Linked DNA regions of Homo sapiens: all the other regions are linked to region 1. Evidence: fine-mapped expression QTL. A gene starts in region 1. Each other region holds a variant in brackets. All regions are shown on one strand. Distances are between the middles of the regions. Region 1 holds the start of SLC28A1 (solute carrier family 28 member 1). Region 2 overlaps SLC28A1 (solute carrier family 28 member 1). Region 3 overlaps SLC28A1 (solute carrier family 28 member 1).

What was found. PIP is the estimated chance that this variant, and not a neighbour inherited with it, causes the effect.
Region 2: its variant is fine-mapped to the expression of SLC28A1 in left ventricle (GTEx, PIP above 0.99). The same link has a PIP of 0.9 or more in skeletal muscle.
Region 3: its variant is fine-mapped to the expression of SLC28A1 in nasal epithelium (TOPMed, PIP above 0.99).

The regions. Positions count from the first base shown.
Region 1 is chr15:84,880,267-84,890,707 of GRCh38, reverse strand. It overlaps SLC28A1 (solute carrier family 28 member 1), which reads right to left and starts at 6,046. Exons shown (of 19, transcript NM_004213.5): 1 at 5,957-6,046; 2 at 3,921-4,036; 3 at 2,852-2,963; 4 at 1,848-1,936; 5 at 174-265. The coding sequence starts at 2,947. RefSeq lists enhancers at 463-1,031, 5,966-6,466, 6,467-6,967.
Region 2 is chr15:84,938,380-84,948,820 of GRCh38, reverse strand. SLC28A1 (solute carrier family 28 member 1) reads right to left here. Exons shown (of 19, transcript NM_004213.5): 16 at 5,295-5,376; 17 at 4,157-4,255; 18 at 3,954-4,065; 19 at 3,023-3,696. The coding sequence ends at 3,621. It also overlaps the pseudogene RNU6-339P, the pseudogene RNU6-796P and the pseudogene HMGB1P43. Among named protein-coding and RNA genes, the nearest start is that of PDE8A, 38 kb to the left of the region's middle. The variant C/T (reference allele first, on the strand shown) is at 3,754.
Region 3 is chr15:84,917,848-84,928,288 of GRCh38, reverse strand. It overlaps SLC28A1 (solute carrier family 28 member 1), which reads right to left. Exons shown (of 19, transcript NM_004213.5): 10 at 9,685-9,765; 11 at 7,220-7,300; 12 at 4,179-4,304. Among named protein-coding and RNA genes, the nearest start is that of SLC28A1, 38 kb to the right of the region's middle. RefSeq lists enhancers at 163-222, 3,635-4,135. The variant A/G (reference allele first, on the strand shown) is at 4,313.

The DNA of each region.
Region 1 (10,441 bases):
AAGATCTGGCCTGGCTTAACAGATGCCTCAGTACCCAGCAAGGGAGCTGGACCTGAGTTGGTGCTCAACAACCATTTGTTGAATGACTGGGTGAGTGAATGACCCTGCCCTGAGACATGGATAGCTGAGGCAGGAGTCATTGTGTCCTGGGTAGTGCTGGGCCCCAGGCTCACCAGTGCAGAGCAGGCCTGTGCCGATCCATCGAAACAGCTGCATGTGCTCCCTGCAGAAGCTTCTGGCTCTCAGGGCTGGCTGCAGGTTCCTCCTGGGAACAAGACCAGCAGGGTCCATGAGTGCATGAGCAGACCCCATCTGGGGGAGATCCTCAGCACCTCCACTCAGGTATGTCCCCAGTAAAGTGGCAACAGGGGCAAGCCAGGGCTTGCCTTGACATCCCCACAGGGCTGCAGGGCAACCCCAGCCCAGGGCAAATGTAGAAATGGTTCAGGCCTTCCTGCCTCTGTGGCAGCACCCACAGGCCCCACTACCCCAGTGATAGTCCCTGCCTCCAGGGCTCAGGAGGAAGTTCACTGAAAAGGCAGAACCTCATCAACATACAGAAATGTGGCCGGTGGGGGGGCGCGGTGGCTCACACCAGTAATCCCAGCACTTTGGGAGGCCCAGGAGCGTGGATCACTTGAGCCCAGGAGTTCAAGACTAGCCTGGGCAACATGACAAACCCCTTCTCTACCAAAAACACAAAAATTAGCCAGGCATGGTGGCGTGCGCCTGTAATCCCAGCTGCTCAAGAAGCTGAGGCAGGAGAATCTCTTGAGCCCAGGAAGGGTTCGTGCCACTGCACTCCAGCCCAGGCAACAGAGTGAGACCTGCCTAAAAAAAAAAAAAGAGAGAAAGGAAGGAAGGAAGAGAAAGCAAGCAAGCAAGAAAGAAAGAGAAAGAAAGAAAAAAGAAAAGAAAGAAGGAAGGAAGAGAGAAAGAAAAGGAAGGAAGGAAGGAAGGAAGGAAGGAAGGAAGGAAGGAAGGAAGGAAGGAAGGAAAGAAGGAAGGAAGGAAAGAAGGAAGGAAGGAAAGAAGGAAGGAAGGAAAGAAAAGAAAAAGGAAAAGAAAAGAAAAGAAAAACATGGATGGCTGCCTCCCCTCCCCTGTCGTTCATCCACCTGCCCATGGGACACACATTGAGTAGACGCCCACTCAATGCTAATTGGAATCCACCCACCAGCTGCCATTTTAAGGAGCCTCACCTCCTCTCAGTCCCCACCTCCCACCTCCTCCTGAGAGGGTGGAGGAGGCATTCTTCCCATATCCCCTGCCCAGGCAGAGAGACGGAATCCCTCCCCCACCACCACCCCCTGCCCATCACGGTGTCCTCAGCTCCGGATCTGGCCAACAAGGACCCAGATGGCCCAGGCATCAGGAGGTGGAGTTCTATGCTCACCTCAGACACTCGCTGCCTATGCCATCCTGGCTGGTCCCTTCCCCTCTCTGGGCTTCTACCTCCCTGTGTAAAATCAGGGACCTTGCCCAGTTCAGGATTTTTAACCGGAGTCTTCAGACTCCCCGAGGTACCCCAGAGACTGAATGGGGGTAGAAGGCAGAAGGGGGAGGTTGAGAGGGAGGCCTGGCTGGTTCAGGGCAGGCCCCACGGTACATACTGGGGTTCCTGATGGGATTTCGTTTCAGCTGTTCAAAAGCAGGTGGGGAGCCTGTGACTTGGCTCACCCTCGAGGCTCATGTGCCTGTGCGTGTTGGCTAAAGCGCCTTTATTCCTCCCTTCAACAAAGGTTCACGTCCCCCCAACTCCCATCCGCCAGGAGGCCCGGCTCCCCATCCTGTTCCCAAGCAGCCTCCACCCCAGGCCCGCCCTTGTCTCTCCAGAGATCACCTACCATCTGGAGAAGGGCTTCGGCGCCGCCTCGCTCCAGCTGCTCCTGATCTCTGCGGGGCTCAAGTCACTCCTAGGGAGCTGGCCTTCCTCCTACAGCCCGCAGGGAGCCGTCAGGTCGGCCTGCCCCTTACCCACCCCCAGGAACTTACAGCTGGGGGTCGGGGGCCACGGTGAGACCCTGGCTGAGGAGGGGACTGGGCTGGGGCACAGGGAGGAATTAGAAGGCTACTAAACTGGATTCTGCAAGGCAGGCACTGAGCACCTACTGTGTGCAGGGCTCTGCCAGACACATCTTGCCCTCAGCGAGCTCATGGTCTGCGCAGGGACAGACACCTGCGGCCCAGCTGTGACTGAGAGGGGCCGAGGGGAGGCCTGTAAGGGAGGCCCCAGGCAGGGCTACCTCATCACATGACCTCAGGGCACCATGCACCCACCGTCTGTGGAGCTGTTTTGGGTGGGGGGTGGGTATTCTTGCATATGACAGCGTGAAAGGAGCACCCCAAGAGACAAGGGCAGTGAAGGGGAGGGGGCTTTGTCAGAGGAGCCTGGGAGCGTGCAGGGTATCCTACCAGGCTCCGAGTTCTGGGTGGTGTGCCTCGACCTGACCTGGCCACTTGAAAGCAAGGACAAGGCTCCTTGAAGGCTGAGATTTCCTTAGAGACCCCCCTCCCCCATCATCTGGTTTTGATTCTCATTCTGTAGGTCACAGCTCTAATGTCACTTCCTCACTGGGGCCTGCCCTGCCCTTTCAGACTAGGACTTTCAGACTATAGTGCACACAGTACGTGCTCAGTCAATGTTTAATGAGTGAAATAAAGGGGTCTGCCTTGTGTTGAGGAGGCCAACACACTGGGAGGTTCATAACTGTGCCAGCAAAGAGGTGAGAAGGGGGCAGAAGAATGGGGTATGAGGGAAGGTGGTGAGCAAAAGCCTCATCACCTCGGCAGCCGGGCTCAAGCCAAAGAGGCTGAGGGGTCAGGATGACTGATGGGGAAGGGTACAGACCAGGCTTTCCAAGAAATCAGCCCCCATGTTCTCCAGACCCTTGGCCACAGGTGTGAGAGAGATGGACTCTCTTCGTCTCGAGGGGTCGTTCTCCATGTCCCAGACCTTCCAGCTGAAAGACAAATCAGGGAGCGCCCAACGCTGAAAGGGAGGCCGGGCAGGGCCCAGTTTAGGGGCCCGGGGAAAGGGGAGAGGACTGAGTGGGGGGAGCAGATGCCTGGCACAGCCAGAGCCCTGCCTGGGGGCCACCTATGCCATCCCAGAGCTCACCCCTCCTTGTGACTGGGACTGCAACCTTGACTTCTCAGCACATGGAGGAGGTACCTCTTCCTTTTTCTAGAGACTGGGTCTCCCTGTGTTGCACAGGCTGGCCTCCAACTCCTGGGCTCAAGCAGTCCTCCCACCTCAGCCTCCCAAAGTGTTGGGATTACAGGCGTGCGCCACCACCCCAGCCTGCACCCACATCTGAACCTGTAAGAGGCAAGTCCTTGTGAACTCTGGGAGTTCCAGGCAGAAACAGCAAATTCTGCCCACTTCATAGGGAAGGAAAGTAAAGAATTATATACAGCCTGCATATGTATCTGATACAGGCATTTTTCTGAAGAGAGGACCTAGCTTTCATCACTCCCTACAACTGGTTAAAACTATTACCATTAAGTGAGATCTTCAGTGTATTCTACTTTTCCATCTCTGAAAGATGGAGGTGCAACATCCTTAAAGGCATCATTCCAGTTCCTGGATCCAACTATACCTGAAACCAATCCTACTCCTGGACTTTCCATTGCAAGAATCAATATAGTTCATTTTTTGCTGAAGCTCAGTTCGTAGGCTTAAGCTCATCTGTAAATAAGAGTGGTAACTAACACCTCCTCTCTCCCTTCTCTTGTTCCCGCTCCTTTTTCTCCCCTTGGGTGGTGCCCTACTCCATCCAAATGCCAGCCCAGTTAGGCTGACATACTCAGAGACCCGTGCATGTGCGTGCACACACACAGGCAGAGCCTGGGAATGCCCTGGCTCACACACAGACGCACAGCAGCGCACACAGAAGCGGGGCCCTGTTTCTACTCACGTATTTGCGGTTAACAGGTCGCTCTCAGAGAGAGAGGGAAGCACACGTCTCTGTGGGGACAAGCTGGGTCCAACCTGCTTTGGCTCTGGCTTGCCTTGTCACTTCAGCAGAAATTCCTGGGCAGAGTCCAGGGTCGGAGTAGGTTGGGCCTGCCACCCAGTTCTGCCCAGCGCCTCCCCAGAGGCCAGGGCCACAGCCAGGGTGGGGACCCCAACACGGTCTCAGGGATACAGGAAGCAGGCCCACTTGCAACCTGGCTCCCTGCAGCTCCTGCCCACTGGCTGCTGCTTCTCCATCAGAGATGCCCTCCTCTGCCCTCTCCCCAGTTCCCAAACTGACCTCTTCCAGGCCTATTAGGGCCGCTTCTTCCAGGAAGCCACCTATGTGATTATTTCCCTCCCCCTCCTTCCTTCCCATGGCCTCCTTTCCCCAGCCAGGCTGTTAGCTTTTTGCATTTTATCTTTCATTTTGCATCTTTCTCTATCTCCCTTTCTCACTAGATGGGGATTTATTATAACAGCAACCAATTTTCCTGTGCTGGAAAATGAGGAAAGCAGTGTAGCTGTGAGAAATAGTAAAAGTGTTTCAGGTCTGTCAAGAAAACAAAACCAAATCACACCATTTCCCCTTCATTTCATCTTTGTTAAATGAATACCTAAGCCAACGGTGTGCAAAGCGAAGGGCTGAATGCTTTAGTTTTCCAGTCCTCACACTAAACATTAAACTCATCTGACGGGATTCACAACATCTCTTTAATAATTAATGGTACGCGCTCAGGACAAAATCCTCTATGATGCATAAATACTTGCTAGTACCGGCACCTCCTGGTTGTTTTGGAAGTTTGGAGAGGATGGTGGATGGACACCCCCTCTTTTTGAAAACATTTTTTCTTCATCTGTCATTTGAATTACCAAAGCATTACAAGTGTATCATTAAACATTTAAACATTAGAGAAATATACAGAATGAGGGAAGTTAAAGTCCCCGGAATCTGAGCCCTCAGGGATGACCACTATTGAGTTTGTGTGGCATTTTCCTCCTTTTTTTTTTTTTTTTTGAGACGGAGTTTCACTCTTGTTGCCCAGGCTGGAGTACAGTGGTGCGAGCTCGGTTCACTGCAACCTCCGCCTCCCAAGTTCAAGCGATTCTCCTGCCTCAGCCTCCCAAGTAGCTGTGATTACAGGCATGCGCCACCACACCTGGCTAATTTTGTATTTTTAGTAGAGATGGGGTTTCTCCATGTTGGTCAGGCTGGTCTCGAACTTCCAACCTCAGGTGGTCCACCCACCTTGGCCTCCCAAAGTGCTGGGATTACAGGCATGAGCCACCGCGCCTGGCCTTTTCTCCACTTTTTTTTTCCTAAATGTATGTTATTTTATGTTATTCATTTTCCAATAGGGGATCACACAGTAACAGTGTTCTCATAATTTGATTTTTCTAGCAGAGTTCCGCACACTGTTGAGAGCCCATGTGTTACCTTGATTGAAAACTAGCCACAGAGCAAGACTCTACCTTTAAAAAAAAAAAAGAGGGGGGGCACGGTGGCTCATGCCTGCACTCCCAGCACTTTGGGAGGCCAAGGTGGGCAGATCACTTGAAGCCAGGAGTTCGAGACCAGCCTGGCCAACATGGTGAAACCCCGTCTCTACTAAAAATACAAAAATTAGCCAGGCATGGTGGCAGGTGCCTGTAGTCCCAGCTACTCGGGAGGCTGAGGCAGGAGAATTGCTTGAACCCGAGAGGTGGAGGCTGCAGTGAGCAGAGATCACACCACTGCACTCCAGCCTCGGCAACAGAGCGAGACTCTACCTCAAAAACAGAAAAGAAACAAAAACTAAATGCCTCTGAGCAGCACTACTGTCTCCATGGGTGGCCACCACAGGGATGGGCCTGGAGCTGTCCTCGAAGGGGTCTTCGCCAAGCCCTAGTGAAGAAAAAAAGGACGCTACCTGCTTTTCCACTTTGCCCTGTGCTACCCCCTTCCCCTCCTTTCTTCAGTCCCGCCTTCCCTCCTCTCCTACTGTCCTTTTCTCTCACCCTTGTTTCTGTCAGCATCCAGAGGGAAGCCAGGAACACAACACATCCAGCAGCAACCATGCAGTGCAGCTTATAACCTTCACATCGTTGTGGGCCCTAATCTCTACAACAAGGATTTAATGGGCTGTGTGTCTTGGGGTGGACCTTGAGCTTGGAGCCCAAAGGTCTCCACTCCTGACTGCCAAAGTTAACTTGCTGCCTCATCTGGTGGTGGGTAATAGAGCACATGAGGAGTCAGCGTGCTCCTGCTTAGGAAGTACCTGGCAGGGAGTCAAGCGGCATCAGGCTGGCAGGTGTCATTGCTGTCACAGGTCCCATCCGGGGTGTCCTGACACACTGCTCCCCTCCTCCAGGCCAGGAGACTCCGGGCTTCTCCCCTGCTCCTCCTCTCAAGGAGGCATGGCCAGCAGGGATCCCAGACCCCAGAAGCCAAGCGGTCTTTTCAGGTGGAATGTGGCAAAAAGCCACAGGCTGGGGAGTTGGGAGGCTGGATAGATTGGGGTGGAGACCCCAGGGAAAGACCAACAGCTGGAGGACCTCAGGTGTCCCGGCTGTGCCCCTCCAGCTGTGGGACCTCAGCATGTCCTTGGGCTTCTTGGTGGCCTGTTTCCTAAGGAGACAGCCTCTGAGGCCCGGCACACCCGCAGACGCCCGCTGAGTGAGACCTAGAGCTGAGCCAGGCCAGGGCAGAGTGGGGAGAGGACCACATAAATATACATAGATAATTTCCCTCACCATCCAGCAGAGCTCAGAAGGGTTGACAGTAAAGGGGCTGCTCCACCCCTCCAACTCTATCCCATTCCTCAGAGGCAACCACCTAACTTTTCTGGTTTTAGTTCTTCTGCAGGCCACCTCCTGTTTTAGGGAATTATTAGTCAAAGAGTTGGAGAGGATCCCTTCTCGCCAGGCTCTGACATAATAGGTTATTTTATAAGTAGTGAGTGAAACATTCAAAAAGCACAAGAACTGTCAGAAGAGTTGCTCAGCAATCTCTTTATTTTCTTCTCATGATTCTGCCCACACTCATTTCTTAGCTCTTCACAGGCGAGGTCTCTTTCATTGCATCGATTCGTGTATCCAAGCACTGGACAAATAAAGAGGCTTATCACTCGTCAAGTTCCATGAACATGACCTCATCATTCTTCTCTCCTAAACCTGGGATGATTGGCAGAAAGGGCATCCATACAACTTTTTCTTCTGCATTTGGCATTGAAAAATGGACTTCCCGTAGTCTGTAGTAGAAATATTGGAAAGTAGCAATAATCCTAGCACTTTGGGAGGCCAAGGCAGGTAGATCGCTTGAGCCCAGGACTTCAAGACCAGCCTGGGCAACACAGGGAGACCCTGTCTCTACAAAAAATAGAAAAAATTAGACAGGTGTGGTGGCGTGCACCTGTAATCCCAGCTACTCAGGAGGCTGAGGTGGGAGGATCATTTAAGCCTGGGAAGTCAAGGCTGCAGTGAACCATAATCACACCACTGCACTCCAGCCTGGGCGACAGGAGTGAGACCCTGTAAAAAAAAAAATTGATGACATAGAGCTAAATACAAAGACTAAAGAAATATCTTGGGCTTTTATACTCTTTGCTTGTGACTCTTCTAGTTTTCCTGTGGGAACGGACTAGCCCAAGTGTTAGAGCACACTGCTCTCCCGGCAACTACAGAGCTAGTTCAGCTGGTCCCAGGGGAAGAAAGCATTCCAGTACCCCAAAGGCTGGAAGCCCCCAGCCTGCTTGGCATGATTATCCAACGGTTTCCGATATAGTTTACTCCTTGACCCACTCTACTCACTGAGAACATCTGGGCACATGTGGTCATCATCCAATACAAAATGGAAGGCCGAGTCTGGGGCTCATCTACGGCAGCAACAAGAGGCCTGGTAGAATTAGGATGCCGGGTCCCACCTGCAGGAGTGCTTAAGGCCACCAGGCAGGGCGAATTTTACCCAAGCAGTTCAGAGCTCACTGTTCCCAAATATTTAATATTTAATTGATTGTACTTAAAAAGTGTATTTCCCTTGTTGTTCTTTTTACCTTCTATTCCTCTTGCCTCTCCAGCTCATATTAGCATTTTATTTATTCATTTATTTTTTTGAGACAGGGTCTCACTCTGTCTCCCTGGCTGGCGTGCAGTGGCGCAATCTCAGCTCACTACAGCCTCGACCTCCCACCAATCCTCCCACCTCAGCCTCCAGAGTAGTTGGGACTACAGATGTGCACCATACGCCAGCTAATTTTTTTTTCTTTTTTAAAAAATTTCATCCTGGTTGTTCTAATATTTATTTATTTACCTATTTTGTAGAGACAGGGTCTTACCATGTTGCCCAGGTCTAGAACTCCTGGGCTCAAGTGATCCTCCTGCCCCGGTCTCCCAAAGTGCTGGGATTACAAGTGTGAGCCACTGTGCCCAGCCTCATATCAGCTTTTCATATAGTGAGAAATTGAGATAGTTCCTTTTCAGTTTGATCCAGATCAAGATGTTCTGCAAACCAAGGGTCTTAATTCATGTTATGCTATTGGGTTCAGGGGTGATGTCCCTGTCTATTATAGGTTTTATACTAAAGGCTATATCTTCCTTCTAAAGTACACTTCCTCCAGCTATTGGCAGGGGCTGTGGAGACTATTAATTTGGATCTCCATTGCCTTATTGATCAAGTCACAGTTGATAAGCCGATTCGCTATACAGACAAAAATAATTCCTTGATTGTTCCATCTTCTCCCCCTGTCATAGAAGTGGTCTGATGTGGCCCTCACTGAGACTTAGGGCGAAGCCAGATATTTTTACAGGAGTAATCATGAAGAGGACTTAAGGCCTCCTGGCAGGAGCCAGGAAAACAAATCTACCAAAGACCAGCAGGGTCCATAGAGAAGTGCTGACAAGTAGGGCACCACAAATTAAATACAATTGTTAGGTAGAACAAAAACGGACACCTGTGAATGTCACGTCCCATATTCAGACATTGAAACTCTCCAAGCATATCTCGTCCCCTACCCCCCAGGTGGAATTCCACCACTAGTGTCCTGCCATGGAGTCAAAGGCGTGGCTGTGTCTTTCACTCTACTCTCACTGGTACTCTCACTGTTGTTCCTGGATGGGCCTGCCAATCAGACGCCATGACTCACTTGGAAACACTCCTTTCCATTTCACTACACCTGTAGAAGCAAGGTTCCTGATTCCAAGGGCTGCGTCCAATTCCCTCAGTTCTGTGGCCGTGGAGACCTGACCCATCACAGAAGCTCAATACTGGCCAGCTCATGGGCCGGGAGCCTCAGCTGTAGCATTTCCTGTTGGTTCCCATCAGTCTCCTTCCCCAGGGCAGTGCTGGTCCCCACAGGGATGAGAGCTGGAAAGGTAGTACTCAGGGGCTTGGGCAGAGAGCTTTTTTAACCACCCCAACCTCAGGAAACGGAGAGGCACTGGAGCTCCCAGGTTGGAGGGGAAGAGCAGTGTGTGAGGGGCCCTGAGATGGATCCTGTAGTTCCAGGAGATGGTGACAACAATGGTACCAGCTGGCACACTTAAGAGCTTGGCAGATGCCAGGCTCTGTGATAAGAGCCTTACATGCACTATCTCAAGGAACCCTCACAATAACCCAGTGAGGTAGGCATTGGCCACTGTTTCCCCTACCTGTCCTCCATGGGGGAGTATGACGGGGCAGCCAGTACCAGAAAGGGAGCAACTATTGAGAAGCTGGCCAACCTGAGGTAAAGCCAGGGGCCACCGCGCTGCGTGCTAGTATTTGGAAGATCTGAGCTAGCTCTTGAGGTGTCTGCCCCATGTGACCATCTCATCGGCTGCCTGACAGGCAGGATGGATTCTGGACCCCCGCTTGGACTCTACTGCTGGGGACTGTGTTCTCTGGCCAGACTCTGTGTCATCAGGGTTATGGTGTCTCTGAATGACTTCCTGGGTAAGACCCAGTGTGAATTCTGCAAGGATTGATTTACTGGGCAGTCAGCCCCATATCCTGAATAAGAATCCAACTGCTCCAAGGATATACATTTTGCCATGATAGAAAAGATGAGCCCTCATACAGTGGCTCACGCCTGTAATCCCAGCACTTTGGGAGGCTGAGGCGGGCAGATCACTTGAGGTCAGGAGTTCGAGACCAGCCTGATCAACATGGTGAAACCCAGTCTCTACTAAAAATATAAAAATTAGGTGGGCATGATGGTGCATGCCCGTAGTCCCAGCTACTCGGGAGGCTAAGGCAGGAGAATTGCTTGAGCCCAGGAGGCACAGGTTATCGTGAACCAAGATCATGCCACTGTACTGCAGCCTGGGTGACAGAGCGAGGCTCTATTTCCAAAAAAAAAAAAAAAAAAAGAAAGAAAGAAAGAAAAGAAAAAGAAAGGAAAGAAAAGATGAGCCACCAGCATGGTAGCACATGCCTGTGGTCCTGGCTACTTGGGAGGCTGAGGTGGGAGAATTGCTTGAGCCCAGGAGTTCGAGGCTGCAGTAAGCCATGATAACACCACTGCACTC
Region 2 (10,441 bases), 58 kb before region 1:
GGTTATTATCTTGATGAGGTTTAAGCAAATGATGAATGACTGCTTGATTTCAAGCAGAATCGGGGGTTAACAAAGTGACTATCCTAGGCAATGTCCTTCTCATTACAAAGAGGAACCTTCTCAATTAGTTTAGGTTAGAGGGGATTTCTGGAAAGAATTTGGCTGTCATGGAATCCAAGGAAAAGCAGAACAACTGGGCTGCAGTAAGGGAGGGAATGAGGTCAGCTCCAAGCCATAGCCCCACCGTGGTGACTCAGCTCCCAGCTCTGTTTCTGGGTTTTATAATTCATATTCCTTCCCAAGAATCCAAAAGGCCATTGGCAAGAGTACAGATTTGGCCTGCCCTGAGTCAGGCATTCAATCCTGGTTCAATAGCAAATCACTCATGGGAATGGAGTCTCATGACTCAAACATAAAAACATGTTGACAGAGGCCATCCATACAGTGGGTATAAACATTCTCAGAAAAGCTGGATGGGGAGGTAGACACCCTCAAAATGATGTTTAAGGTCCTGTCCAACCTCAGGGCTCACTAATCCCAAGTCAAAAGTAATTTCAAGCAGATGATATTCTTCATGTGGTTGCAAAGAGGTCAGGACTAATTAACATTCAGCTGAAGGCATGAGCTTGAATTAAATTGAGGGGGCAGCAGAGGTGAGGGCAGGGCCATGGGAAGAAAGGGGCAGAAGGGGGGTCAATGTAGCCCATTAGTCAACTCACAGACCTTGGCATGTTGCCTATTGGGACATGCATTGTCTAGGACAGAGTTACCCATGGGCTGAATTACAAGTTATACAGCATCTGTGTCCACGCAGTTTTTTTTTCCCCATGCCATTTAAAAAATAAACTATTAAATTTTAGAATAGTTTAGACTTACAAAATGTTGCACCAATACTACCGAGCTCCCATATATCCCACACCCATTTTCCCCTCTTGTTAATAGCTTACACTACTATTTGCTATGGTCTGAATGTTCATGTCTCCTCAAAGTTCATATGCTGAAATCCTAGCCCCCAAGGTGAAGGTATTAGGAGGGGGGGTCTTTGGGAGGTGATAAGGTCATGAGAGTAAAGCCCACATGAATGGGATTAGTGTCCTTATGCAAGAGGCCCCAGGGATCTCATTAGCCTCTTCTGCCATGTGAGGACACAGGGAGAAGGTGCCACCTATGAGAAACTGGCTCTCACCAGGCACAGCATCTTCTAGCACCTTGATTTTGGACTTCCCAGCCTCAAGAGCTGTGAGAAATACATTTCTGTTGTTTATAAGCTATCCCATTTATGGTATTTTGTTATCAGCCAAAACTGACTAAGACAGAAGGGTACAGTGTGAGCCCTATATTCAAGTGGCCTGCAGTCTTCTAGGGAAGGCCACTGGCCACAGAATGAGCGTGCAGGGAGTCCAGAGAAGGGGGTCAAGGGCAGTCCTTGGGCTGTTCCATGACCCAGCTAGTGGAGCTGAGGCCAACATATGGGCAGGGAAGGGGCGGAGGGCCAATCCTGGGAGAGGACTGTGTTGTCCATATCAACAGGGCACCCTGCCCACAGCCCAAGGGCAGCTGGAGCAGGTAGCAAGGACTGAGGGAGGGCTGCAGAGAGAAGGCAAGAGCCTAGCTGGAGCTACAGGAGTCAGGCCAAGCCTCCACTCTGTGGAGCTAAGGGAAGGACACAGGCCCTGAGGATGGGGACCCAGGTCAGCCTGTGGGGCTCACAAGGAGCAAGGCTGCTGCCCACTGGAACCAAAGTCTGTGGCAGAACAGAAACAGGACCTGGCTCACTGGGGCTGAGCTGAATAACTGCTGGCCAGGGCTCCACCCTCCCACTGCCCTAGGTCAGGGTCAGCCCCAGCTAGGAAAGAAGTTGGACCTGGCAGGTAGGGGTGAGGGTGTAGGGCCCCAGCAGCCACAAGGGCAGGGTGCATCGCAGGTCCTGGAAGCCAAAGCTGCTGGGGAAAATGAGAACTGAGATGGGAGCAGGGCAGGCGGCAGGGAGATGGAGAGGGCATGCTGGTGATAGGAACTCCAGAAATGAAGGCAGGGGAGGGACATCGGGCCTCACCTAGTGGCACAGAGGGCTTGGGGTGGGGAGGAAAGGCAGCGAGGGAGGTGAGGGCGGGCCACCCATCAGGGTTCCCTGAACACCAGCAGCCCAACAGAGAGGCCCCACATCGCAGTTTGTGTTATGACCTGAAAATACAGAAGATGCATGAGGAGGGGCTCCCCTCAGATGGGCTCGGGGCACCCCTATACCACCCAGAACTAGGTGGCCTGGCTCAAATCCTGCCTCTGCCTCTTCCCAGCTCTGTCCCTTTAGGCACATAACTTAACCTGTCCGCGACTCCGATTCCTCAACTAGTGACAATAATAACACCTACTGCATGAAGTTGTTGTAAGGATTGAGTTAAAATATATAAAGCGCTGAGAACAGTGCCTGGCACACAGTGCCACATAAGCATTTGCTAACATTACAGTTGCCTAGAGTAAAGCAGTTTGAACATTAGCCAATATTTCCCAAGTTGTATTCCACAAAATCTTCAACTGAGACACTTCCATCAAAAAGGTTCTTATGGGCCAGATACAGTGACTTATGCTTATAATCCCAACACATTGGGAAGCCAAGGTGGGCAGACTACTTGAGTCCAGGAGTCTGAGACTAGCCTGGGCAACATAGCAAGACCTCATCTCTACCAAAAAAAAAAAAAAAAAAAAAATATATATATATATATATATATATATATGAACATACACACACATATATATATATGTATGTATATATATGTGTGTATTTATATATAAATTAGCTGGACATGGTGGTACATGCCTATGATCCTAGCTACTTAGGAGGCTGAGGTGGGAGGATCACTTGAGCCTGAGAGGTTGACGCTGCAGTGAGCCATGATCACCTCACTGTACTCTAGCCTGGGTGACAGAGTGAAAAGGTTTTTATGGTCAAGTAAATGTGGAAAAAACCACCAAGCTCTGACAAGTTCACAGTTAAAAAAACAAAAAAATAAACAAACAAAAGTCTAAACAGCCCTCTCTAAGTTTATTTAACCCAGTGGTTCCAAACCTAGTCCATCATGGAACCCTCTGAACGCCTCCCAGGACAGTGTGCCATGGGACCTCAGTTTGGGAAGCACTCTGAGGAAAGGCGGGAAGGGTTTCTCTGAAAGCAGAGAAAGAGGTGACACCACCCAGCAGGGGAAGCCACAGAGAGATCCTAGTGCCTAGGAAGTGGGGAGGGGAGGAGGCTTTGGTGTGCAGCCCACAACAGAAGGGAAGGGGCATGTGAGGGACCCCAGGAGAGGGGGGATAGAGAGGACCAGGGTGCTGTTTGGATGTGGAGGGGAAACGGGAGGAGGCAGAAGTGACCCTGAGAATTCACACTGGGGGAGTTAGGAAATGGGGGAGCAGGAAGGGGGATGGAGTGGGACATGTCCTTCCTTATGTCCTCACTCACTCTCTGCACACTCACTCCATGAACCCTTCCCAATTGTGGGATTGAGCTGGGTCTAAGTCCTGTGGCTTCCCTGAAGAGGGCTCTGGGAAAGGGAAGGTGGGGACAGATGGTTCCCGGGGGAGAACAGCCCTCAGAAGCGCAGAAGCACAAGCATGTTCTGTCCTCACTGTGCACAGATCGTGTGGTTGTAAAACCGACAGCAGTTGTCCAGGGCCTCTGGGCTGAACTCTGGATTGACGCTAAAAAGAAAGCAAAGATCGCAGTGGGAGCTCCAGGCCTGGTTCTGCGGGCCACCA[C/T]CAGGCTGTGCAACACCGGGAACACTGTTTCAAGTCTCTGGTCCACCCTTCCTCCATTGGTCCTCGAGCCTTCACCTCCCCATTAGCTGCAGCCGTAACATTTCTACCCTCACCCTGGTACCAAAGGCATCCCCCCCAGCGCTCAGGCATTCTGTCTATCACTGTGGGTGCCCTGCAGGTCCCACAGCCCAGGCCCTCACCTCTGGAAGGCCTCACGGCAGCACTGGTAAATCTCAAAGCTACTGCTGCTGAGGGTCGTGTTCAAGAGGGACATGCAGTCAACTTCAGCCCCCCTGGGCATGTAGAGGATCCCTGTAGAGGGAAAGTGGTGGGTGGGGCAGGGCCCCCGGGCTAGCCAGAAAGTCAGGGTTCCACCTTCTGAGCCTGCCAGGCCTGCACTCACCTGCCATACAGGCGTTCACCAGGGACACACAGGCTCCCGTGAAGAGCGCCCGGAGCACTATCTGGGAGAAGTCGCTCTTCCGTTGGGGGACCATGGAGGCTGCAAGGGGACAGAAGTGCTCAGGGCCTGGGAAGCTGTGTCCCTCTCTGCCCGCGTTCCGCAGCTCGGGCTGCATCTGCTGACCTCCCTTCCTCTTCTATTAATAGATGGCCAGAGGGACAGATGTTGTCCTCCTGACAGCTTGCTGAGCTCAGGAGTTCTCTTTGGCCTGGCTTGGACCCCTAGGCAATGCCCCACATCTCCCTACACACCATGAGTGGCAGATGCAGGAAAAGAATGTGAGTTTGGAGTCAGGCAGACCTGGGATTAAATACAAGCTCAGCCACTCACTAGCTGAGTGACTTGGGCCACCACTTCACTTCATGAAGACTCAGTTTCCTTCTTTGTAAAATGGGGTGATTATACCACCAGGCAGTGTAGCTGCCAGGACTGGAAATGTTATTTGTAAAGAACTGAGAACTGTGCAGACCCTTCGACCTTAGGCCCCACCAGGCCTGCCTGCCTGTCCACTGTGGGTGTGGGAACAGGCAGGCCAAAGCCTTGGGGACAGGCAAGCACCACACCTCCCACCCCTGAGCCAGGCTTGGCCTTCAAGGCCCAGGTGCTAACTTCCTGGGCCACCAGCAGCAGCAGAGAATCGGAATTCTAGGGCTAGGAGGAAACTCTATGAACATCTTTTTCTTTTTTCTTTTTTTTTTTTTGAGACAGAGTCTCGCTCTGTAGCCCAGGCTGGAGTGCAGTGGTGCGATCTCAGCTCATCCTCGTGCCTGGGTTCAGCTTCCTGAGTAGCTGGGATCACAGGCGTGCACCACCACGCCTGGCTAATTTTTGTATTTTTAGTAGAGATAGAGTTTTGCCATGTTGGCCAGGTTGGCCTCAAACTCCTGGCCTCAAATGATCCACCCACCTGGGCCTCCCAAAGTGCTGGGATTACAGGCATGAGCCACCACACCTGGCCTCTATGGCCATCTTGTTTGGGTCCTGCTTTAGACAAATGAGACAACTGAGGCCTACATGTCCCGAGCAAGTTCAAGTCCCAGACTCTCCTAGACACTGGTGAGGCCCTGATTAGACTCACTCAAGCCTCCCAGCATGATCCCAATGGAGCTGAAATTGGCAAATCCACAGAGGGCAAACGTCGTGAGGACTTCAGCTCTGACCTGAAAATACAGAAGATGCATGAGGAGGGGCTCCCCTCAGATGGGCCTGGGGCACCCCTATAACACCCAGGCTCCCTGGCCTTAATTTTACCCACTTCTTACATGTAATTGACCTTTGAGTCCTCTGTGCTGCCGCTTCCCCAGCCTTGCAATCCCACCTCTAAGTTGGCTCAAACTGCACCACATCAAAAACATAGCCCCCCTCTCTTATCTGTCCTTCAACTTTTTTTGTTTCTTTTTTTGTTTTTGTTTTTGTTTGAGACGGAGTTTTACTCTTGTCACCCAGGCTGGAGTGCAGTGGCACAATCTCAGCCCACTGCAACCTGTGCCTCCTGGGTTCAAGCCATTCTCCTGCCTCAGCCTCCCGAGTAGCTGGGATTATAGGTGCCCGCCACCACGCCCGGCTAACTTTTTGTATTTTTAGCGGAGATGGGGTTTCGCCATGTTGGGCAGGCTGGTCTCAAACTCCTGACCTTAGATGATCTGCCCACCTCAGCCTCCCAAAGTGCTGGGATTACAGGTGTGAGCCACCACACCCAGCCTGTCCTTCAACCTTTTAATCTTCATTACCAGCCTTTCTGGATGGGGTTCAGCCTTTGTTAGTCCTGTCGCTTTGGCCCTACTAAGCTCTGTCCTGGGGCCATTTGGTGGACAGCCCCTTCCCTGACCCCGCAGTCCTGGGCTTCCAGTTCACAGCACTCCTGTGAATGCTCTCAGGCTGAGAGAGGGAGTATGGCCCACAGGAAAGAGTAAGGGATTTGGAGCCCAGCCAGCCTGGCTTCTAGGATTGTCTCACCAATGATCAGCTTGAGAAGTCAGTCACTTCTTTCAGTGTCAGTTTTCCTGTCTGGAATAGGGGAATAATAGTAGTTGCCTGGGAGGGCTGTAAAAAGGATTATATAATGTATGGGAAACACCAGGCAGACAGTAAGTGTTCAAACACAATAGTTATTTGCTTTTGTTCTTAACAACTGTCCTATTTCCCAGAAAGAAGTTTTAAGAGCCAAAATGAAATAATTTGAAAACAAAATTGGTTTATGGGTACAAAAAAATAGTTAGAATAAATGAATAAGAGCTAATATTTTATAGCACAACAGGGTGACTATAGTCAGTAATGACTTAATTGTACATTTAAAAATAACTAAGAGTATAATTGGATTGTTTGTAACACAAAGGATAAATGCTCGAGGGGATGGATACCCCATTCTCCATGATGTGCTTATTTCACATTGCATGCCAGTATCAAAGCATCTCATGTACCTCATAAATATTTACACCTACTATATACCCACAAAAATTAAAAATTATTTAAAAAATTGGTATAGAGCCTCCCCTCACACTATATAAAAATTAATTCTAGATAAATATTAATATTTTAAGTATAGAATGATAGAAAATATAGGATAATAAATATAGTTACAAGGTACTATTATTACTCTTATTTTGGAGAGGAGTAAACCGAGGCTCAGAGAGGTTAAGTAACTAAGGAAGTTCACACAGCAAGAAGGTAGCTGTATCAGAATTTGAACTCAGTTCTGACTCCAAAGCTCATGGTCTGAATTATCTCATCACGTTATTTCACGAATTTAACACTTTCCAGATAACTTTCTTTTTCTTTCTTTCCTTTTTTTGAAAACTTCTGCCTCCTGGGTTCAAGCGATTCTCATGCTTCAGCCTCCCAAGTAGCTGGGATTACAGGTGTGTGTTACCACACCTGGCTAAGTTTTCTATTTCCTGTTTGCCATGTTGGCCAGGCTGGTCTCAAACTCCGGGCATCAAGTGACCCACCCTCCTTGGCCTCCCAAAGTGTTGGAATTACAGGCATGAGCCACCGTGCCCAGCCGCACTTTCCAGATAACGTTATAAGTTTAGAAATAACAGAAGAAATCACAAAAGAAAATATTTGGTATAAAATCTATGTTAAAAAAAAAACAAATCCCGGCCGGGTGCAGTGGGTCACGCCTGTAATCCCAGCACTTTGGGAAGCCAAGGTGGGCAGATCACAAGTTCAGGAGACCGAGACCATCCTGGCTAACATGGTGAAACCCCATTTCTACTAAAAATACAAAAAATTAGCCGGGCACAGTGGCGGGTGCCTGTAGTCCCAGCTACTTGGGAGGCTGAGGCAGGAGAATGGCGTGAACCCAGGAGGCAGAGCTTGCAGTGAGCCGAGATCACACCACTGCACTCCAGCCTAGGCAACAGAGCGAGACTCCGTCTCAAAAAAAAAAAACAAATCCCAAATGCTGGGTCAAGTGAGAGCTGACAGGCACTGGGTGACTCTGTGCCTCACTGAGGAAAAATAACTAAACATGGGCAGAAGAGACCCTAAGAAGCCAAGAGGCAAAATGTGATTATATGCACTCCCTGTCCAAGCTTGTTGGGAGGGACACGAGAAGAAGCACCCAGATGCTTCAGGCAACTCCTCAGAGCTTTCAAAGAAGTGCCAGAGAGGCAGATGACCATGTCAACTAAACAGAAAAGAAAATTTGAAGATGTGGCAAAGGCGGACAAGGCTGGCTAGGAAAGAGAAATGAAAACTTACATCCTTCCTAAAGGGAAAACAAAAAAGAAGTTCCAGCATCCCAATGCGCCCAAGAGGCCTCCTTTGGCCTCTTCTTGTTCTATTCCAAGCATCACCCAAAAATCAAAGGAGAACATCCCAGCCTATCCGTTGTTGATGTTGCAAAGAAAGTAGGAGAGATGTGGTTATAAAACCGCTGTGGAGAATAAGCAGCCTTAGAAAAAGACACCTGCAAAGCTGGAAGAAAAATACAAAAGGGATATTGCTGCATACCGAGCTAAAGGAAAGCCTGATGTAGCAAAAATAAGGGAGCTGTCAAGGCTGAAAAAGAAAGAAAAAGAAAGAATAGGAGAAACATGAGAAAGAGGAAGAGGATGAGGGGGAAGGAAAGATGGGGAAGATGAAGATGATGAATAAGCTAGTTCTAGTAGCTTTTTTTTTGTATATAATGTATTTAACCCCCCCACACTAAATTCATTCCTTTTAAAGAAATAAATTAAAATGTAAGGCCATGTAAGATTTGTTTTTAAACTGTACAGTGTCCTTTTTTTTGCATAGTTACATACTACCCAATGTGTCTTTAGATAACTCTGTCCTGGTGGTATTTTCAATAGCCACCAACCTTGCCTGGTGCAGTATGGGGGTTATAAATTGGCATGGAAATTTAAAGCAGGCTCTTGTTGGCACACAGCACACATTAGTTATGTATGTGGATGGTAGTGCCTTCATCTTTAGTTGTCTCTGATGCAGCTTACACAAAATAGTTGCTGTTTTGTTAACTAAACACCACTGGAGCCGGGCGTGGTGGCTCATGCCTGTAATCCCAGCAATTTAGGAGGCCAGGGCAGAAGGATTGCTTGAGGTCAGGAGTTTGAGACCAACTTGGGCAATACGGCGAGACCCCGTCTCTACAAAAAATGCGAAGGTTAGTTAGCCAGGTGTGGTGGCACACGTCTGTAATCCCAGCTACACAGGGGCTGAGGCAGGAGGATCACTTGAGCCTAGGAGGCAGAGGCTACAGTGAGCTGTGATTGCACCACTGCACTCCAGCCTGGGTGACAAAGTGAGACCCAGTCTCCAAAAATAAATAAATAAATACATACATATATACCACTCAAAAGTTACAGCTGTTTTGTTGACATTCTGAATGCTTCTAAGTAAATACAATTTTTTTAATTAAAAAAAAAACACATTCCTGTGCTTGCTTCTTGTGCACATATATTAAAACTTCAATGATACAAAGAAGATTAGCATGGCCCCTACCTGAGGATGACGCACAAATTCATGAAGCGTTCTACATTTAAAAACCAAAAAATAAATTTCCTTATACAACATAAAGGGCAATAACAGAAAAGGCTAGGAAAAGTATATGTAGAAAATATATCAGAAAAAAGTTAATGCCTTTATAACATAAAGCATTGATACAAATATTATTGGAAAAAATATGAAGGTACCTGCATCTCTGCTTGCCCACCTACAGTTGTGTTCCACAGAGCAGCCCCAGGCTCCCTCCCTTCCTTCGGTCTCGCTGTCTTTTTCCCTCCCTCCCTCTGTCCCTTCCTTCTTTCCTTTCTTGCTTCCTTCTCTCTGTCTTTTGTTTTCAGACAGGGTCTCACTCTGTCACCTAGGCTAGAGTGCAGTGGCAAAATCATAGCTCACTGCAGCCCCAGTCTCCTGGGTCCAAGCGATCCTCCTGCCTCAGTGTCCCAAGTAGCTGAGACCACAGGCGTGCACCACTACACCTGGCTAATTTTTAAATTTTTTGTAAAGCCAGGGTCTTGCTTTGTTTCCAGGGCTGGTCTTGAACTCCTGGTCTTAAGTGAGCCTCCTGCCTTAGCCTCCCAAAGTGCTGGGGTTACAGGTATGAGCCACCACACCCAGCCTCCAGTCATCTTCTTAAAATTCAAAATGTCAAATCTTCAGTGATTTCCAACTGTTCCTTGGCCTGTGATTACCACCTGCTCTAGCTGTATCCATTGCCTCTGCTCTCTAAGCACACCAAGTGCTTTTCAACCTCAGGGCCTTTGCACATGCCTCTTCCTTTGGAATGTTTTTCCCAGCTTGTCCTAGCTCATCCGTTCTCCAAGTCTTGGCTTAAATGCCACACCTCAGGGATATTTTTTCTGACCAGTCCAGCCAAGGAAGACCCTGCCCTGTTTTTTTTTTTCTTGTTGTTTTCTTCATAGAACTTACCACGAATTGTGGTTATTTTAATTTTTGTTCCTTTGCTTTCTTGTGTTTTGCCTGTGTCTCTCACTACATGTCGGTTCCATGAGACCAGAGCCATGTCTGTGTAATTCTCCTTTTTATCCCCAGTGCCTAGCAGAATGCCTGGCACCTAAATGGTCTCAACAAATACTTGCTGAAGGAATGAAGTTCATTAAAAAAAGATCATGAAGTGCTTGCTTCGGCAGCATACATACTAAAATCAGAACGATACGGAGAAGATTAGCACGGCCCCTGTGCAAGGATGATGTGCAAATTCATGAAGCATTCTATATTTTTACACTGTGTGCCTGCATCTAAACACCTCATGTACCC
Region 3 (10,441 bases), 38 kb before region 1:
TCCTCTGGGCCAGCTATAGTTGTAGTCTGGGGCTTTCAAACCAGAGACTGTAAAATGGAGGCTCAAGGGCACCTAGGGATGATCCTGGCTGCCTCTGCCCATTCTGTGCAGCTAAAGGGAAGTGGGTACCCAGGCCCTGTCAATGGGGAAGCCAGACTGCCCAGGGCTGGGCCTGGACTTTTGCCTGAGAAAGGGAAGAAAAGAGGGCTGAGTTTTAAGCCAGATTGTGGAAATGGGCGAGCATTCTTCCAGTGTTTAAGTTCTAAGTAATGACTAGGAGGAACACCAGCGTTATTCTTTTCGTTGTCTAAGGGGACCAGAACAAGGTTAAGACATTTAAAGCCCTAAGTTCTGAAAATATTATGGCATCCCCCTCCCCCAATATCCTGCCATGAAAAAAAGTTTCAGGAACAAAGTTTTGGGTTTCCATTTTTGAAATATCAAATTCCTTCTGCTGGGACTCTTAAAACAAAACCTAGAATAAAGGGCTCAGAAGTAGCCTCAGAAGAAGTTTTTCTGTCCTGCCCTCCCATTTATCAGTCCAATTCTCCTTCAAGGCTAGCCATAAAAACTAGAATTCCCCTTCTCCAAGGCAGGGCACGGAGACCAGAAGCCCTTTTCCCCAAAGCCAGCCATAAAGCCTAAAAACATTGCTTTAACTTCCCTCTGCCTTTCTGGGTAAAAAGTGGCAATAAAGAAATTATCTGACCTACTTTGTTTGAGTGTAGGTCATAAGACCCCCCCTTCCAGAGAGGATCTTGCCCCATACCCAGAAGGAAAAAATGCTCAGAGAGCCCAAGAAGAGTCTACACAGACAGGCTTTGCTGTTTTTCCTCCACTCAGTCGATTAGTATTAGATCACACTCTGTTTGTCCAATTCTATTTCTATGTGGCTATCCATACTTTGTTGAACCTGAGCGTAAAAATGGACAATTTTCCCTGTATCTTTGGGTCTTCCTTCTGAAGGCCCCCGTGTGTATGCATTAAATAAATTTGTGTGCCTTTCTCCTGTTAATCTCCCTTTTGTGAGCTGATTTTTCAGTGAACCTTCAGAGGACGTAGGGGAAATTTTCCCTTGGCCTCCACACTTCCAAAAACAATTGGTGGTGGGGTGGGTGGGTGCACCAGTTTTAATGAGCCCTTTTCTAGGCCTCAGCAAGACAGGTGCAAACCAGATGACAGTCTCTAGAATTCTAGATGGGAGGGTACCAGGCCAGAAACCAAAGCCCCTGAGCCCAAGGGGACTTCTTGAAAAGTCACGCAACAGCTGGCCCTGCCCAGACAGCTCTGTGGCATGTAGAGCTGAGCTTATTGGTGTGGTCCAGGCATCCGGAGTGAAGGAGAGATGGAGGGGCAGGCTGGCTGTTTGTTCACCCATCTCTCATCATCCCCAGGGACAGAGATGAGAGAGACAGGTGGAATTTGGGATTAAAGAAGGGGACAATGTAGGTCATTTTCTGGTCACCGCCTACCACCACCCCCCCCCTCCCCCCACCCCCCACACAGCATCCAGAGAGCCTGGGGCAGGGGCAGAGAGCCAGAAGGCAGGGCAGGGTCAATCTCCAAATCAGCACATACAGGCCACCTCACTCTCATGCTGAATGCTACCACCTTGTGTGGGGCAACTTACCCAGCTTATGACTGTACTGCTGGGCATTTAGGCTGTCCAGTTTTCTTGCTTTTGCAAATGTTGGAATTTTGCATTTCTTGAACACTTGTGAGAATATCCCTATATCACAATTTTTCTAGCTGGATCAAAGGGAAAGAATATTTTTAAAGTGATTGAAGCTGGATGCAATGGCTCATGCCTGTAATCCTAATATTTTGGGAGGCCAAGGCAGGAGGATTGCTTGAGCCCAGGAGTTCAAGACCAGCCTGAGCAACATAGCAAGATCCCGTCTCTACCAAAAAAAAAAAAAAAAAATAGCCAGGGGTGGTGGCGCACGTATGTAGTCCCAGCTACTCAGGAGGCTGAGGTGGGAGAATTGCTTGAGTCCAGGAGTTTGAGGCTATGGTGAGCTGTAATTGCACCACTGTGCTCCAGCTTGAGTAACAGAGGGAAACTCTGTCTCTCTCTATATAAATACATGTTGGTGTCATGTGGGGAGTTAAAAAACAAAAAATAAATATTTTTAATTGCTCTATATAATAAAATACAATATTTTATTATATAAATAAAAAAATTAAAAGTGATATATGATAAAATAATAAAATATTATATATAGAATAAAATAAAAAAACAAAATATTATATATAGAATAAAATAAATAAAAAATAAATAGACTGATAGGCCTTCACCAAAAAAGGTTACAGTAAATTAAACTGTTACCATGAGTGGGTGAGTACCACACACTTGCCATTTGGGGGCACGTAAAGGGTTTCATATCACTTAGAAGAAAGATAAGTTATTATCGTCTTAATTCCTTTGAACATCAGTGAGCTTGAATATCTTTTTATAATTTGTGAACTATTTTCTCCTGATCAATGATTCTCAACTTTTATTAAAAAAAAAAGAGAGAGAAAGTATGTGAGTACTCAGGTGTATATACCTAAAAGCCTACTTACACAGAAAGATTTGGAATGACATTTTAGGTCAGTGGTCTCAAATTGGGCGGGCATCAGAATCACCTGTGAGGCCTGTTGCAACGCAGTATGCTGGTTCCACCCCCATCATTTCTTTTCTTTTTTTGAAACACAGTCTCACTCTGTTGCCCAGGCTACTGTGCAGTGGTGCGATCTCAGTTCACTGCAACCTCCGCCTCCCAGTTTCAAGTGATTCTCCTGCTTCAGCCTCCCAAATAGCTAGGATTACAAGCACCCACCACCACGGCCAGCTATTTTTTTGTATTTTTAGTAGAGATGAGATTTCACCATGTTGGCCGGGCTGCTCTCAAATTCCTGACCTCAGATGATCCACCCGCCTTGGCATCCCCCATCGTTTCTGATTCAGCAGGTCTAGGGTGGGCCCAAGAATTTGCATTTCTAACAAGTTCGCAGGTGATGCTGACAATGCTGGTCCATGGACCCCACTTTCAGAATAGCTGTTCTACGCTATTAAAAGCAATTACCAGGCCAGGCACCGTGGCTCATGCCTGTAATACCAGCACTTTGGGAGGCTGAGGTGGGCAGATCACAAGGTCAGGAGATCGAGACCATCCTGGCCAACATGGTGAAACCCTGTCTCTACTAAAAATACAAAAAAAAAAAAAAAAAAAAAAAAACTAGCTGGGCGCGGTGGGGCGTGCCTGTAATCCTAGCTACTCAGGACGCTGAGGCAGGAGAAACGCTTGAACCAGGGAGCTAGAGGTTGCAGTCAGCCAAGATTGCGCCACTGCACTCCAGCCTGGCAACAGAGCAAGACTCCGTCTCAAAAACAAACAAACAAAAAAAATTAATAAAAAATAAAATCAGTTACCCATGGGAAGTGGGGTTAAGAAAGAGATTTAAAAACTTATTTGTTTCTGCAATAAGCAAGAATTTCTTTGATCATTAAGGAAATAAAATTGAGACCTTTGAAGATTTGCCTGTGAAAGCACAAATGTGAAAGCATAAGGTGTTTTATGAATGTAAAGCATTATTACCGGGCATTATGTGAGGGATGCATTTGAGAATTTCCCTCTGCCCACCATGCAGTAGCATTGTGATTGCTTTTAGGGCCTAATTCACACCACTGGAATTTGACCTACAAATTCTTTGTGCTGTGTAAACTGCACAGGCAATAATTTAGGAGCAGAGGCAGGACTTGAGCCCAGAGAGAGTGTGGGGAAAGGGAGGAGGGAAGGAGTAGGACGGATCTCTAGGGACAGCCCAGGTGTGAGACTGGAGAAATGAGCACAAATTTTGGAGTCAGACAGATCTGGGTTTGGGCATCTCACTTACTCTGGAGCCTCAATTTTCTCATCTGGAAAATGGGGATATTAAAACACCTAGCATACTGCCTGGTACCTAGCATGCACTCAGTAAATGGAACACCAGGAAGCTTTGCCCCAGGTGGCCATGCGCAAAGCCCGAGCAAATGGTCCAGCCCACTGGGCTCAGGGGAAGCCACTCCTCTTGCCAGCACAGCAGGCCCAAGAGAGAAGATCTGAGGGCTGCTCTGGCCAGGAGCTGTGTGGGGCTCCCACAAAGATGGGCTTCAGGTCCTCAACATAGCCAAGCAGAAGGAGGGCTCTACCTACCCCAAAGGAGATGTAGGCACCCAGCAGGCTGCCAGCAATGGTGGCGTAACCTCCGGTCATGACAACGTGGACTTCAGAGAGTGTCATGTCTGCCAAGTAGGGCCGGATCAGTAATGGAGCCTCGGTCTGCAAAC[A/G]GGAAAGATGTCAGACAAGCAGGGTGGGGGTGATTGGGCACATCCTCTCCCTTCACAGGTCACAGTGAGCAGCTGGGAGTCCCACGGTAAGAGGCAGCAGGATGGGGTAAGGACCAGGGTCTGTACTTGGCTGAGCTTCTCTGAACCTCAGCATTGCCTACCTCTACAGAAGGACCCCCATCCCTCCCTCCCGGCCTGACAATGCTCCCCTGTGTTGATGTCCTGCCACGTGCCAGGCACCCCGCTAAGCACGTCACCTTTGTTACTCACAACCTTCTGAGATAGAATTGGGTATCTCCGTTTTCCAGGAGAGCAACAGAGGTTCGGTGGGGTTCCAGGAATGACCCCTGCTCATGTAAAAGGATGTGAAGCAGGTCCTGCTGCAGGCCCAAGCTCTCCTGCAGCCACAGCGGTGGCCAAAAAGAAAGGAGCTTGGGCATTGGATGAGGGGTGCATTTCTGGGCATCTGGGCAGCCCGAAGCCCTTCATTACTCATTCAGTATCTAGTTGTTGAGCGCCTACTGTGTTCCAGGCACTGTTATATAGAATAGGAACATGGCGTCGACAGGATAAAGTCCCTGCCTTCATAGGGCTTATATCCTGGGAGCCGTGGAGGGTGGGAGGATATAGATAATCAACAAGCAACCAAGCAGGTAAGCAATGTCATTTTAGATGGTGATGAAAGCTATGAAGATATGTGTGATAATGCCTACTGGTTAGGGGTGTTTAAAACTGAGTAGGCCAGGCACAGTGGCTCACGCCTGCAATCCCAGCACTTTGGGAGGCTGAGGTGGTAGGATTGGCTGAGGTCAGGAGTTCCAGACCAGCCTGGCCAACATGGTGAAACCCTGTCTCAACTAAAAATACAAAAATTAGCCGGGCATGCTGACACATGTCAGTAATCCCAGCTACTAGGGAGGCTTAGGCACGAGAATCGCTTGAACCCGGGAGGCGGAGGTTGCAGTGAGCCCAAGATTGTGCCACTGCGCTCCAGCCTAGGTGACAGAGCGAGACTCCATCTCAGAAAACAAAAACAAAGAAACTGAGAAATCGGCAAAGCCCTCTCTGAGGAGGTGACATTAGGTTAGGGTTGGCTGAGACCTGAAGGAGCCAGTGACATGGTTTGATAGCATAGCATTCCAGGCAAGCGAATAGCAGAGGCCCTAAGGCAGCAAGAAGCTCTGCAAGGTCCAAAAGCCATAGCAGTCAGCATGTCTGCTGCAGATGGGCGCGGGGGAGCCGCCTGAGACAGAGGCAGAGGGGGCAGGTGGGCCACAGAGGGGCTAGGAAGCCACGGTGAGGGGCACGCTTGCTTAGGCAGGAGTGGAATGATCCGCTTTGTGTGTTTGAAGGGTCACTCGGGTGTATGAGTGAAGGACGGATAGTACGGGAAGGAAGAAGAGGTAGGAGGAGACGGCAGTGTCCAGGTGAGAGGCAGGTGGCCCGGGCAGCGGGGGGTTGTAGATGGGCCACAGAGGCAGCGCTGTGGGAATGCTGATAGATTGGATGCCGCAGTGGGGGAAGCGGAGGAAGGCAGGGCAGCTCTTCCAGCTCCGCCTGAACCATCCTGTGGAAGATGTTCCCACTTGCCAAGAGGGGAAGGGCTTGAGAGGGGCAGGGGTGATGAGGGAGGGGAGCAACAGTTCAGGTTGTTTGGACTTAGCGTCTTAATGTGCGACACCCCTTAGATCTCCAAGTGGACGGTCAAGGGGCCAGTTGACCTGTCAGTCCTGAGTTCATGGGAGATCAGGACTGCAGAGCAGGACCTGAGAGACATTTAAAGTGTTTAAAGCCATGGGGCTAATGTGATCCTGCAGGGAGGGAGTGTGGATGGACAAGAGCAGAGGGCCCAGGCCTGCCACAAGTAGAGAGGTTCAAATGATGCCACTGATCCCTGAAGGCTCCCCATCCCTCCCTCTTGGGGGAAATGAGGCGTAGACCCCGGCATCTAGGTCAGCTTAATCAACAGCTTGTCCAAAGTGAATTCACCTTGGCAGCGCTTCACATCGCCCAATGTCACTTTCACCTACATATTTTCCCAGCAAAACACATGGAACACATTTGCAGCCTTTCATATAGAATAACTGCTTTGCATTTTAATAGTGTTTTCCTCTTTTGCCTCATTTTGAACACCTTAAGGGATTTTTTTGACAGTTTATCTGAGAGCACGTCTATCTTCATCGGCTAAAAACAAGACAAAACTAAACAAAAAATAACCAGAACAAAAACTTTCAAATCAACACACATGCACCGTAGCAAAAAAGATAAAAATATTCTCCAAAGTTTCCTAAACTGTCCAGTGAAATATGGCATCTTCTAACCAGTGTGTCTCTTGGTGACTCAAACATTAGGCAGATGGGCCAGGACAGGCCTTGGCAGAGTCTCCAGAGGGCCATCCTCAGGGGGATCAGGCTTTCTGAAAGGGACTCGGCACCAAGGGTACTTTCAGAGTCACATTTACTTTGGAAAACACATTTTAAGAAAGAGGGAGAAAAGAAAAGACAAAATGATGCAGTGGAAAAAACTCTGACCAGAAAGAAGAAAACCTGGATTTGAAGCCGTGGCTTATATGTGTGGAATCTTGGTCAAGGGATTCCCATCCCCTGAGCCTGTTTCCTCATGTGTAAAATGAGAAACTGGATCCATCTGGAGGATTTGTGAGTCTTTGGGCTGATGAAGACCGCCTAGGGCTAGAGTGGTAAGAGAAGCCAGACAGATGACATCCTCCCTGGCATGACCCAGGCATCCCCCAAACAGAGTATCCCTGGAGCAGCAGAATTTGATGACCCTGGGAGAAGGTTCAAATGGCTCTTCCTTGGACTGAATCAGAGCTCTGGGGATCCAGGGAAACTGCCCTCTTTGGGGAAGCTGCTGATGAGCATGAGGGTAGGAGGCTTCCATACCCACCTGGCTCACAAAGATGTTTCCAGCCACACTCAGGGTCTCAGTGGCTGTGGTGCCCATGGTGACTTGCATCAGCCAGGCAATCTAGAAGGAAGCAGAATGTTCTTTGTGGGCTGACATCAGCAAACCCCAGAGTCAGAGGGGGCTGGAGTGGAAGACCTTACACAGTTTCCTCCCAACTCCCAGCCCAGTGTAGGACCCCTTCATCTACATTTTCCCAAAAGGTCCATTCATCTTCTTCTTCCACACCTTCATTGATGGGGGCTTACCCCTTCCCAAGGCCATTCATTTCACCGTAGGAATGCAGAAAGGATTTCCTGGCCCAATATATTTGAGAATTGTGAAATGCACACACACACACACACACACCCCTTGGAGATTACCAATACACATTAGCTTAGTAAAGCCTCTGAGAAGTCCTGCATTAAGCCTATTTAAATTTTCATAGCATAATGTCTAGCCTAGTTTCCCTAAATTATTTGACCATGGGATTAGGCTACCTTTACCTGGTAACATTTACTAACATGCTGTGGAACTAGAGTTTTGTGGAAAAGGTTTTGGGAAACATTCTATTAGAAAGCCCTTCCCCTTCCCCTTCCCCTTCCCCTTTCCTTTCCTTTCCTTTCCAAGACAGAGCCTCGTTCTGTCACCCAGGCTGGAGTGCGGTGGCACAATCTTGGCTCACTGCAACCTCTGCCTCCCAGGTTCAAGCAACTCTCCTGCCTCAGCCTCCTGAGTAGTTGGGACTACAGGCACTCGCCACCATGCCCGGCTAATTTTTGTATTTTTAGTAGAGATGAGGTTTCACTATGTTGGCCAGACTGGTCTCGAACTCCTGACCTCAGGTGATCCGTCTGCCTTGGCCTCCCAAAGTGCTGGGATTACAGGCATGAGCCACCACGCCCAACTAGAAAGCTCTTCTTTTTAATCAAGATGAAATCTGCTTCCCTGGAATTCTCTCCACTGCTGGTGCCTCTCAGGTTGCCCTTTGCCTAATCTCTCTTCTGTAAGTATTTGGAGACAGCTATCCTCCCCTAACTTCCTCTTCTCCAAGCTCCTCATTCCCTATTCCTTCAACCATTTTGTGGAGGGCATGGTTTCAATCCCTTTCACTATCCTGCTTATAGTTCAGTTTGTCATAGCCTCTTGGTTGAACACAGTCTCCAGGTCTGGGGAGAATCACCTCCTTTATGCTATGCTGTGTGTGCTCTTAACATAACTGCTATGGTTTGAATATCCCCACCTAAACTCATGTTGAAATTTGATTGCCAAATAAAAATATATATATATTTGATTGCCATTGTAACGATGTTGAGAGGCATGACCTTGAGGAGGTGATTAGGGCATGAAGGCTCTGCCCTCATGAATGGATTAATGCTGTTATTGCAGGAGTAGTTTGGTTATCATGGGAGTGAACTCCTGATAAAAAGGATAAGTTTGGCCCTGATCTCTCTGTGTCTTGTGTGCTCACTTCTGCCTTCTGCCCTTCCACCATGTTATGACACAGCAAGAAGGCCCTTACCAGATGTCAGTGCCATGCTCTTGGCCTTCCCAGCCAAGGTTTCAATCTTGAAACCATACCCTCTATTTGGCCATGAGCCAAATAAATCTCTTTTCTTTATAAATTACCCAGTCTGTGATATTCTGTTATAGCAACAGAAAATGAACAAAGATAATAACCACAGGTTGTTTTTGCATTTCTGGAAGCCATCTGATGTTGCTGATTTATTCTGAGCTCAATCAGCTAAAACCTTGGAATCTTTTGCCAAGTCCAATGCTATCTGTTGCTGTCCAATGCTATCTCCTACATCCTAGTTTTGTGCAGCATATTTTATGAACATAAGCACAGGATCTGACATTTATACCAGCTAAGTCTGGCCAACATGGTCCACTGCTACAGTCTCTCAATATCTTTTCGGTATAAATTATTTTCTTCCCTCTACACCTTTTCAGTGCCGCCTCAAAACTGCAACCTTTCCTCTAGCAAGGACCACATTAGACTTTGGTGCTATTTCTCTTTAGTATCATGACAGGAGACCCTGGGAAAGGACATTTGGTCAGCACTAGATTCTGTGAGGGTGAAGATCCTGGAAGCAGGGGATTCAGGGAAGGTATGGGCCTCAGGAGCAAAGGATTCTAGGAAGGTGTGAACTCTAAGAGCCAGGGGTTCAGGGAAGATATGGACTTCAGAAGCAAGGGATTCTAGGAAGGTGTGAACTCTAAGAGTTGGGGATTCTGGGAAGGTATGGGCCTCAGGAGCAAAGGATTCCAGAAAGGTGTGGAACTTGGCAGCTGGGGATTCTGGGAAGGTGGAGGCACTGGGAACAGGGGACTCTGGAAGGGTGTGGGCTTGGGGAGCAGTGTGTCTGGGGAGGTTTGGGCTCTGGGAGCAAGGCATTCTGGGACAGTGTGAACCCTGTGAGCTGGTGACTCTGGGAGAGCCCTGGCCATGGGCACTGGGAACTTACCTTCAGGATCACCCACTGCATGAGGCCCACGTGGTAGAGAACGGATATGACACAGCTGAAAAAGACAATGATGGGCAGAACCTGCCGGGAAGGAGATCATAGGACCGCAGGTTAGAGGCAGGCAGGATGCAGGGTGCCAGGCGGGGCCCAGGAGACCCCAGACAGCCCACTCCATCCCAGGCCTTGCCACTCAGATGCCTGACAGGATCCGGGAAGATGCTCTGAGATCAGTGCATGAAGTCCCAGGGTTCCACATGCAGGGCCTCTTTGGAGGCAGCCTTGTCCTCTCGGCTCCCCTCTAAATAGTGACCAGCCGCCAGACCACCCCCTCTCCTCAGCACAGGTAGGCCTGTGCTGTGGTAGGGTGGGGCCTGAGTGTACCACTTTTATCTCCTGCTTCTTTGTCTCTAAAAGGGGAGTAAAATGCCCACATCTGAGGGTCGTTGTGAAGGTGGCAGTGTGCACCCTTCTCCATGAGCTCAATCCTTGGCCTCAGACTCTGGCCTTAACCTCCCTCTCATGCTTTGGGCCTGAATGAGGGGACCCTCATCATTTTGGTGCTCCACTTCTGCTCAGCACCAACATGCTCAGAATTAGGCTTATCCCGGACCTGAGCCAGCATCTCCTCCCATCACCCCATTTCCTATTATTAGTACCAGGCTTAACACTCCTCTTCCTTCACTCCAAGCTCACCCATTCTCCCTTTAGAATTTCTCTCACACCCATTCCCTCTTTTCCAGGCCCATGGAAAAGGAGG